Regions from separate parts of the Homo sapiens genome. Here region 2 is linked to region 1. The links come from fine-mapping of genetic effects on gene expression. A gene starts in region 1. The other region holds a variant in brackets. All regions are shown on one strand. Distances are from middle to middle.

What was found. PIP is the estimated chance that this variant, and not a neighbour inherited with it, causes the effect.
Region 2: its variant is the best candidate, but not a certain one, in a credible set for the expression of C11orf58 in whole blood (INTERVAL, PIP 0.68).

What each region holds. Positions count from the first base shown.
Region 1 is chr11:16,735,721-16,741,099 of GRCh38, forward strand. It overlaps C11orf58 (chromosome 11 open reading frame 58), which reads left to right and starts at 2,927. Exons shown (of 5, transcript NM_014267.6): 1 at 2,927-3,121. The coding sequence starts at 3,059. It also overlaps a transcript of SOX6 not described here. RefSeq lists an enhancer at 2,801-3,430.
Region 2 is chr11:16,766,900-16,772,278 of GRCh38, forward strand. No RefSeq gene overlaps it. Among named protein-coding and RNA genes, the nearest start is that of C11orf58, 31 kb to the left of the region's middle. The variant C/CAA (reference allele first, on the strand shown) is at 2,549.

The DNA of each region.
Region 1 (5,379 bases):
ACTTTGAGGTCAATTGTAAAAATCACCTATAAAAAGCACCTAGCAAAGTATATGGTACATGGTGGGTATTTAATAAATGGTAACTGTAATTAAGGCCCTAGGAATTTTTTTTTTTAGTCTCAAGTGAAACAGCAGATTTTTTGTACACAGCATAATCTTCAAAGCCTTTATTTCCTCTTCAGTTTTAACTATGGTCAATCATGACTATCCCTGGTTGAGAGCACGTACTCGACAAACATCTGTGACTGCCCACTACATGCTAAATGTTGGGAAAATTTAAAAAAATGTAAAGTTCTCAGTGACAGGGCCTCCTCTCCTTGTCTTTACTACCCAAGAAAGAAGAACATTGCTGAGTTTCTAGGCCTCATATAAGATACCACTCTGGTACTATATAATTTCATCCTTCCTATATTAATTCAGAAACATTTATTAACTACCGTGTGGCAGGCATTGCGCCAGAAACAAAAATGCAGATGCAACAGTCCCAATTCTGAAGGAGGTATTTCATTGTTTCACTCATGATAGTGTATCTTTGTTTTTACAATACAAGAAAGAGGAGCATTACTGAGTTTCTGTGGCATATATGCATTCTATTACACTGTATAATTTCATCCTTACCTATAGCCTTCTGTATATGAAACTGAGTAAAATCTGATAAAATGTCCCAGTCTTTAGTATTTCCTATGTTACTTTTTCGTTTGTGATCTTGTTTCACAGTAACTTGAAGATTTACCATCCAGGTGCCAACAATTCTGGTGAAGAAATAAAAGACATGTTGCTAGCTCATTAAAGTTTTCTGGACTTTCACCAACTAGTAAAATTAAAATTATATAGTAACTACTATTCTTATTGACAATCCTTTCTTATTTCAGAAATCTTTTAGCAGTCTAAAGTACCTATTCAGCCATCTTATTTGTTTTGGTAATATAGCTAATAGTTCTAAATCACCATTTGTCAAACCCATTAGAGGTGAACTGTAGTCGAAACTGCAAAACTCTGTAACTTAAATGTAATTTCATTGTAACTAATAGAACCTAAGTAGAATTATGTAGTAGTGAAAATATTTTAATTCTAGCAAAAAGCAATCAACCACTTCCTAAAACAATGTTTCTTTTTTTTCTCTTGGGTTTACTCTCCTCCTCCTTTATGATTTATTCTTACCACAGAACCATTAAGATGTTCTTTGTTTGGTTATACTTATAAAATGTAACCCTGACATCTCTTTTTCTATTATAGTACTTACTATTATGCTATTTTTCTGCTTCCAAAATAAGGGAGAATTTGAATCTATGACTGCATAAATTTAAAAACTACCTTCCACTGGTCACAGTTCAGTGAGGATCTGAAATCTAGGTAAGTAATATTTGTACACAGGCAGTGAAACTAGAGCAATTGCTGAGTTCAAAAGCTAATAGCTAAGCATTGTTTCACAGACTGCTCTCAGTTCTGAAACAGCAGATATGTATTATCCATACCACTTATTATTTATTTATTTATTTATTTAGAGACCGAGTCTCGTTCTGTCACCCAGGCTGGAGTGCAGTGGCGCCATCTTGGGTCGCTGAAACCTCCGCCTCCCGGGTTCAAGCGATTCTCCTGCCTCAGCCTCCCGAGTAGCTGGGATTAGAGGCATGTGCCATCATGCCAGGCTAATTTTTGTATTTTTAGTAGAGACGTGGTTTCACCATGTTGATCAGGCTGGTCTCGAACTCCTGACCTCGTGATCCACCCGCCTCAGCCTCCCAAAATGCTGGGGATTACAGGCCTGAGCCATGGCGCCAGGCCTAATTTTTGCTTAAAAAAAAAAAAAATCACATTTGTATTCAAGGTGAGAAAGCTTCAGAATTATTAAGGACAAGGATTCTGACAGAAAGTTAAGTTCAGACCTGGTTACAAATTCAGACACCTTAATAAAGTAGGAGATAGTCTTCAGTATCTGAACAATAAATAGCTTTAAATGCAGGGCTTTTTGAGTAGAGGAGTGATCACTTGAATCTGGAGAGAGGGCGAGAAATGGGGAGGGATTGCTAACGGGCATTGGGGTTCCTTTTGGAGTGGTGAAACTTCTTGGAATCAGAGGTGACAGCTGCACACGATTGTGAATGTACTAAGTGACAGTGGATTGTACACTTTTTAAAAAATGGTTAATTTTATATGTGAATTTAACCTCAATAATTACTTTTTTTAAAAAAGAAAAAAAATAGAGGCTTTTGTGGCAGGGATGGACTTTGCTTGGTGAAGGCCCCTACTGTAACGGTGCCCAGACATCCACAGCGAGGTCAGTGAGGAGCACTCCCACCTCACACAAAGCCATATGAAAACTTAACAGATTTCCCTCAGCTAAATCCCCGTTTTCAACAACCGCCAATTAGCCAACATTTAACAACATACTGAACTCATTTCTGTATGGGAAAACAGCGAAATATTCATGAAAACATTTAGAAAGCAGCATCACCGACCACCTAGAAATCCCCTGCGCGCAATAGAGAACACCAGGGTGGAAATGGTAGAAGCCATTTTTGGTTAAGGTTTTTGTCCTGGGTGGAGGGTATTCGTGAGGATTCAGTCAGCCTCAAACATTACATTTAAACATAGGTGCCTAGCTACGATGATACATTTGCCAGTAGGGCAGCGTTGCACGGTGAAAGGCAAAAACCCCTCTAAGCCTCCTCCTGTGGCGACAAAGCTCTCGGCCAACGCTCACCGCCATACACATCCGCGGGAACGCTTCCTCCACCAGCCGAAGGCGGGGCCTCTGAGGGCACTCCCGCCACACAGCGCGAATTGAGCCTCGGGGCTTCCTGGGAATTGTAGTTTTAGTCACGGACACATCTTTTTTATTCGGGCCAGTATGCAATGAATCAGAAAACTACAACTCCCAAAGTGCCCCGGGGCGGCGAGGGGCCGCAACGGTGACGACTGTGGCAGAGAAGGCCCGGAGGGGCTCTGCGTTCTGTAGTGGCGCTGCTTGGGCCCTTGGCGGATTGTAAGCTGCTGGTTTTGCGGCTGGGAAGAGCGGCGAGAGGGTTCGGCATTTTTCGTCGGGATCCCCGCAAGGATGAGTGCTGCCAGAGAGTCTCACCCGCATGGGGTGAAGCGTTCAGCCTCCCCAGACGACGATGTAAATAATAATGGCGGAGTGGCTGAGGGTTGAGGCCTACTAAAGCCTGGAGTAGGCCGGGAAGGGTGGTTGGAGGAGGACGCGCCTGAGGTGGCCTGCAGCGGGAGAGCCCAGGGAAGAAACCAGAAGAATGAGTGGGAAATGCCTCCCTTAATCTTTATGAGGGTCAGAAGGTTTGAAGAGGCCCACACGCTGAGAGCCGGAGACCTGCGTAGGAAGGGGGATTGAGGAAGGAAATTCTGAGAGGGTCGAGGAGTGAAAGAGCTTAGTCAAGGGATTTCGTACGTGCGTTTTGGGGGGCCGATGAGAGTGCTTTCTCGGGCCTTTGTACTCAGTATAGAGACGGCAAGACTCTCCCTGTTTTGGGTTCTAAATGTTCCCGTGACAATGTCGAAATGTTCGTGCACGTTTGTACAGATTTTTCCTGCCTGGATGATTTTTACAATGTGCTGTTGAGAGTTAACTTTAGCTGCACTAGTAAGGGTAAACCGAGAACAGTATTGAGCCGAAAATTGTGCCACGGGTGTAATTTGGTACTGGCTCTGGTGGTGAGGTCTAAGACGTTGAGACCTAGAAGCCCATTTTGATGTCGGATATTAATACCTCGTTCTTCTTACCTCGTCTCCCCATCAAATGCCGTTCCCTTCCTCAGCCCTCACCTCATAGGTTTTAATAGCAAACGGTTTATCCCTTAAAGTAACCCGTTAAATATTTACTGCACTGCCGGGTGTTGGGAATTCGGAGAGAAATATGATGCTTATTTTAGGCCTTTTTGTATATTTGTCCTAGCTCCTAGCCCAGTGTCATGGAAACGGTAGGTAACCAGTAAACGTAAAACTAGGTCCTTCATACAATGGATAAGTGTCTTGGCAACGTTGATGGGGAAAATTGTTGGAGAGAGCGCGGAGAGGTCATCTTTAAGGAAGATGAAGGGATATCTAGGTTTTTTTTCGGTTTTGTTTAAAGTACTGTCAATTTCTGAATACATAGAGCTTTAAATTTTTCGATAGTGCATTTCAACGCTCTTCATAAAATTTTAAAAGCCCACTGAATACTACTTTGTAGCAAATGAGATAATGTTAAGACCTACCCCTCTGATGGGAGGTGGGGCGAGGACCGGAATATTAAGGATCTTTAAAGGAATCGACTTCAGCTCTGCAGAAAGATTAGCAATCAGTAAAGATTTGGGGATGAATGGGCACCTAGAGAAGTTTATTCTTGCTCTCTGTTATTTCTGCTACTGGATTTTAGATCTTGTTAATATGGTAATTCAGGTTTTGTCAGGAATTGATCCACACTTTTGAGTAACCTGGCTGCCACTTAAAAAGCTGTTACATTGTTTTCCTCCTGATCTTTAAATGTGACTTGATTGCTAGGATATCAGACACCTGTTTGGAAATATCTTTTAGCGTGACAGAAAACTCCAGGTGATATGAAATTTAACAAAGTTAAAGGGATTAAGTCATTAAGTTTACAGCTTCGGAAGAGGTCGGTTTAAACTAGACGACCTTGAAGACCTTTCCCAATCATATAAGCGTATCTTTAAGTACCTGGGTTTTGTTTTTGTTTTGAGACAGGTGAGACAGGGTCTCTGTCGCCCAGGCTGGAGTGCAGTGGCACGATCGATCAGTGCTCCCTGCAGCCTCCACCTCCCTGGCTCAGGTGATCCTCCTGCTTCAACCCCCTCTTCCCCCACCACCACTACAGTAGCTCGGACTACAGGTGTGCACCATTACACCCGACTAATTTTTTGTATTTTTAGTAGAGACCAGATTTTGCCACATTGCCCAGGCTGGTCTCCAACTACTAGACCCAAGCGATCTGCCCACCTCGGCCTCCCAAAGTGCTGGAATTACAGGTGTGAGCCACCTCGCCCAGCCAGTACTTAAAAAAAAAATTTTTTTAACCATAAGTAATGCATTCATTAAAATACCTCCAAGCTGTTGCAGAAAAAAAAAAAAAAACTAGCAGGCCGGGCGCGGTGGCTCACTCCTGTAATCCCAACACTTTGGGAGGCCAAGGCAGGCGGATCACGAGGTCAGGAGATCCAAACCATCCTGGCTAACACAGTGAAACCCCGCCTCTACTAAAAAAATACAAAAAAATTAACCGGGCGTGGTAGCGGGCGCCTGTAGTCCCAGCTACTAGGGAGGCTGAGGCAGGAGAATGGCGTGAACCCGGGAGGCGGAGCTTGCAGTGAGCCAAGATGGCGCCACTGCACTCCAGCCTGGGCGACAGAGCGAGACTCTGTTTAAAAA
Region 2 (5,379 bases), 31 kb after region 1:
AGTAGAGATGAGGTTTCACCATGTTGGTCAGGCTGGTCTCAAACTCCTGATCTCAGGTGATTTGCCTGCCTCAGCCTCCCAAAGTGCTGGGATTACAGGCATGCACCACCACACCCAGCCAGTACAGGACTTTTTAAATAGAATACAAAACCCCACAAACTAGAAAGGGAAAAATTATCAACTCTACTACCTTAAAATTAGTAATGTCTATTCATCAAGACACCATGAAGAGAGTGGAAAAGCAAGCCACAGAGGGGAGAAGATATTTACATACAATCCCTAAGAGACTGTGGGGCAGATACTTCCCATGCTCCACCTCACATCCTCTCGGCCACTTTTTCCTCTGCTATGGCTATCGCTCCTGCAAGATGGCATCTTCACCCTGTGCCCCAGGGCTTCTCAGTGGCCCCAGTGTGGGGTTCATGTGGGAATCACTCACACGTGTATGATCTGGAAAAGTGAGGGGCTTAACACCCCACGGGGACCCCTTGGTCAAAAGGGGCCCTGAGCTAGAGGATAAGTGCTCCCTTCTTTCATTCTCAAGTGGATAATTTTGAGGTGCATTTTACATGGCCCCTTAGAAGGAAGGTCTCAGTGAGACTGAGTCCAAGTTTCCCACAACAGTGACCAGCTCTGGAGAAGCCCCTCTTCGGTTGGTTTCCTCTCATTTCCTTTCCACTGTGATTCCCTAGGACATTCCCAAATAAATGTTCTGCCTGCAAGCCCTGGCCTCAGGCTCTGTTTTCTGGTGGTAACCCCGGTTACCCTAGAAATCTAGAATCCCTACAAATCACTAAGAAAAAGATATGCAACTCAATAGAAAAATGTCAAGACATGACAGGCTTTACAAAAAAGGAAACCCAAGTGGTCAAGGAACATTTAAAAAGCTGCTTGACTCTGTTAATGGTCAGGAAGATGCTAGTTAAGCTTACTTCATACTCATCAAAATGGCTAAAATTTTAAAATAATGAAAAGTTTTGGTGGGTATATTGTCTACCACTGTGTGACAAATTACCTCAAAACTTGATGGCCTAAAACAACAAACATTTATTATCTCACCATTTCCACATGTCAGGAATCGGGGCTTAGCTGAGTGTCTCTGGCTCAGGGTCTCCCAAAAAGCTGTAATGGAGGTGTGAGCTAGGACTGCAGTCACCCAAGACTTGACTGGGGGGATAACTCACTTGCAAGTTCGCTCAGGTGATTGTGGCAGGTCTCAGGTCCTCACTGGTTGTGGTCAGGTGTCCGTTCCTTGCTGGGTAGACCTCCTTCCACTAGCTCACTACAGGGCTTCCCTCGCAGTAAGCAGGTGAGGATGCAAGGGAGAGTGCCCAAGATAGAGGCCTTTTTGTAACCTCATCTTGAAAGTGACATCCATTACCTTCTGGCACATCCTATGCAGTAGAAGTGAGTTACTATCTCCAGCCCACACCTAAGAAGAGGAGATTACACAGGGTGTGAACACCAAGAGGTGAGGATCTTTGGGGCCATTTCAGAAGCTGGCTGCCACAGTGAGGAGGGACAACAACTCATATAGTGATGGTGGGAGCATAAATTAGTACCACTATGTTGGAAAACAATTTGGCATTTTCTACCTCATGTGAAGATATGCTTATCCTCTGACATAGCACCTCTACACTTAGCATGCACACCAACAGACATGCATAGAAATATTAATAGCAGCATTATTTGTAATAGCAATATTACAGTAATGCTATTGTAATAGCAATAACATTATTGGTAAAAGCCCAAATGTCCTTCAACAGTAAAACAGATCAATAATTGTTAGGTAAAACAGATCAATAATTGTTGGATATTCATGCAGTGGAATACTGTCACGTACAGCAGCAAAAATGAGTGAAACAGTTATATGCGACACAAATAAATATAAAAGATGTTTAATGAAAACAAGTTGGACATAAAGGAATTTCTATCTGAGAAAATTATTCTATTCGTAGAAATTTCAGAAAACAAATCAAACTAAGCTACTGTATTTTGTGATGTCTGCTTAGACGGTAACACTGTAAAGAATAGCAAGTAAGTAGTTACCACAAAAGTCGGTGGAGTGCTTATCCGTTGCAGGAGTGGGAGGGCCTCCTGAGCAGGCACGGGCAGGACCAGGGCTGCCAGCACCCTGGCACACTTCTATTTCTCGACTGAAGAGTGGTTACGCAGGTGTTTGCCTTCTGATCACTCACTGAGCTGAATATTCTTTTGTGTGTACCTTCTATAGGTACGTTACATTTGCCATAAAGAAAGGTCTTGGCCGGGCACAGTGGCTCATGTCTGTAATGCCAGCACTTTGGGAGGCCAAGGCGGGCAGATCACCTGGGGTCAGGAGTTTAAGACCACGCTGGCCAACATGGTGAAACCCCATCTCTACTAAAAATACAAAAATTAGCCGGGCATGGTGGTGTGCACCTGTAATCCCAGCTACTCAGGAGGCTGAAGCAGGAAAATCGCTTGAACCTGGGAGGCAGAGGTTGCAGTGAGCTGAGATCATGCCACTGCCCACTCCAGCCTGGGTGACAGAGGGAGACTCCGTCTC[C/CAA]AAAAAAAAAAAAAAAAAAGAATGATCTCAGAAAACTACACACAAACTTACATCCTATTATCTAGTCACGCACAAAAGAAGGCCGAGGGCCTGGCAGAATAAGCACTTGGCAACTGTCAGCCTGTTTTCAGGGCTCCTTCAGGTGAGAAATCCAGGCACATTCATGTCTGCCTCACCCCTTCGCCATGCCAGGCCCTGGAAGGAAAAGAAAGCAGTAGAGTCCATAAGCCTTGCCATTTCCAACATGGTTTGGTCTGGAGAGAGGCCTCTCCTTCTGGGAGAGGACCCAGTCTTCTCCCTCAGTCATGGTGGGAGGCAGGGAGTGTGAAGGGGGTGTTGGCTGAGCAGACCTGGGGTCGGGAGTCAGGGATAGGAAGCCCTTTGGAGCAGTCACTGGAGCTCAGCTCTTGGAGACAAACTGCCTGCTCCATGTGGCTTTAGTGAGAAGACAAAAAAACCCTCTCTAAGTGCCCCCCAACCCCCACCCCTAGAACTTCAATGAAAAGGTCAAGGGAATTTTCCTCTCCTTTAAATGGAATGAATCTTTCTTGGGCCCAAAAAGAATTATTCATCAGGTGTTCATGGCACTCCGTGTGCTTTTACAGGGCCTGGCCGTGCTCTGAGGCACAACAGACAACTTTTTTCCTGAAAGCTCAGTTTATAGGCCAACTTCAAAGCTCGGGTTCTCAGAGCAGGGCACGAGGCTCCAGTTTGAGGACTCACATCAAAGGGAGGCACATAGGTTGATCTGCTGTCGGGTGGACAGCCGCAGGGCTGCAGGGGCGGCCTCCGAGGACTTGGCTGTCCTCTGCTCCTAGAGAGCTCGCGGGGGGTAGCCTGGCATGGCCCAGCCTTGCAAACTCCAACTTCAAAAGCCCCAGACCATCACTCTACCTACGGCAGGTGACTGTCTGAAATGGAAGGCAGAGGGTGGAGGGCAGAAGACAGGGGTCAGGGGATAGTAGATGCCCCCAAACCTGTTTATGCTGCCCAGTCAGGAAAGGAGACAGGCTTTAAATGTGGAAGAACCATGTGGAGCCCTGCTGTCCCGAAGGGCAAAACCAGCCCAGTGAATGCTTCTTGAGTGCTCCCAAGCCAGGGACTGTGTGAGGACTACCTCCTTTAGTCCTCACAATGAACCCTGGAAGGTAGGTCCTATTATGTTCATTTTTCAGAAGAGGAAACTGAAGCTTACGAAGTCCAGTGGTTTGCATACCTCAGTAGAGCTGTTGTGAAAATTAAATGAGTTAGTCCACAGAAAATGCTAAGAACAGTTCTCAGCACCATGGGAAGGATCAGAAAAAATATACATATTGGTTATCATTTACCTGCATTTAAATTAGTCACAGAATTAATAAGGGTAGATTGGAATTCCACAGTACCTGCTCTTATCTACTACTCAAGGGACTTAAGAGAGTGAGAGATGCTCTCTGGGGGCTACAGTATAAAACATGTAACAGAGCTGAGCAGAGATAGGCAAAGTCATCCCAAAAAGAGAGAGGGCTCCCTGGCCAACAGGCCTCAACTTCATTCATTTATCCATTCATTGAACAAATTATTTCTTAGCGCTCTCTTTGTGGCCGACATTGTTCTGGGCAGAAGGGATAATACAGTGAACAAGACAGTGTCCTTGCTTTCATGAAGCTTGTGTTCTTGTGAGGGAAGCAGTCAGTAAACTAGCAAACAAATAATTAAAGAACAAGAGTGTGATGCATATTAAATGACTGTAACTTAAATGCTGGTAAATAACTAATATGTATATTTTTTCTGATGCTTCCCATAGGGGCAAGAACTGATCTTAGCATTTTCTATGGACTAACTCATTTAATTCTCACAACAGTTCTACTGAGGTAGGTAAAAATATCCTTATTTTCCAGGTAAGGACATGGAGGCATGGAGAGGGGAAGTAACTTGCCCAAGTCACAGGGCTGGCAACCCGGATTTGATTCCAGACAGCCTGGCTCAGTGCGTGTCACTTCTGCACTAGGCTGTCTCCCTCCCATGGTGTCAACCTGTGGATGAGGGGCTGGCCAGTCATAGCCACATAGAAAAGAGCCACCTGAAGGGCAGTGCCATCTTCCTTTGTTCCAAAGAGGAAGCCCCGGTCCAGGAACATGAGCATCAGGTCTGCAGGACATAGTCTCCTGTCGTGGAGATAGTACCTCAGGTTGGTATAGCTCAGTAACACCAGGACTCTCCAAGACTGCCCTGGTCCTGAGACTTCCGTGTCTAAAGAAGACACGCATCCCAACCCCAGGTGGGGCTGGGGGTGGTAGTAGTAGTATCAGTGAATACCAGTAGCCAATCTGCCTGGCAGTTCGGTTCCCATCCAATTTTCTCCATCTGTCTCCCAAGTCTGGTCAGTGTGACTGTAGCCCTGAGAGACAGCCCCACTCTTAATGCTGACAAATCTGGTTTCTGAGTCCTAAAGCCGAAAGACCTGTGGCTAGGTCAAGTGTGCCTAAGTAACACCTCTCCAACGTGCCCCAGGCCATGCTCACTGTCAGATCGCAGCCACAGAGGGGGTTTCCATTCATCACACAGTAGGCACTGACACAGGCACTTTCCCAAACCTAAGTTTCTCTTCGGGCTGTCTGTGACATCATCGATTTCACCAGAGATTATTCTTTTTCAAAGGACCCAGAATCCAACTCTATAGGACCATCATCCCTTTCTCCACCAAAATCTTCCCATAAGTCCCCAGGAAGCTCTTCTCTCTCTCTTTTTTTCCTCCAAAGTAACAGCAGCCATTGTAGTGGTTAAAAGCTCCCTGGAGTCAGAGGGATACAAGCTCAAGTTTCAACTCAGTTAATTCCTAGTCATGGGACCAC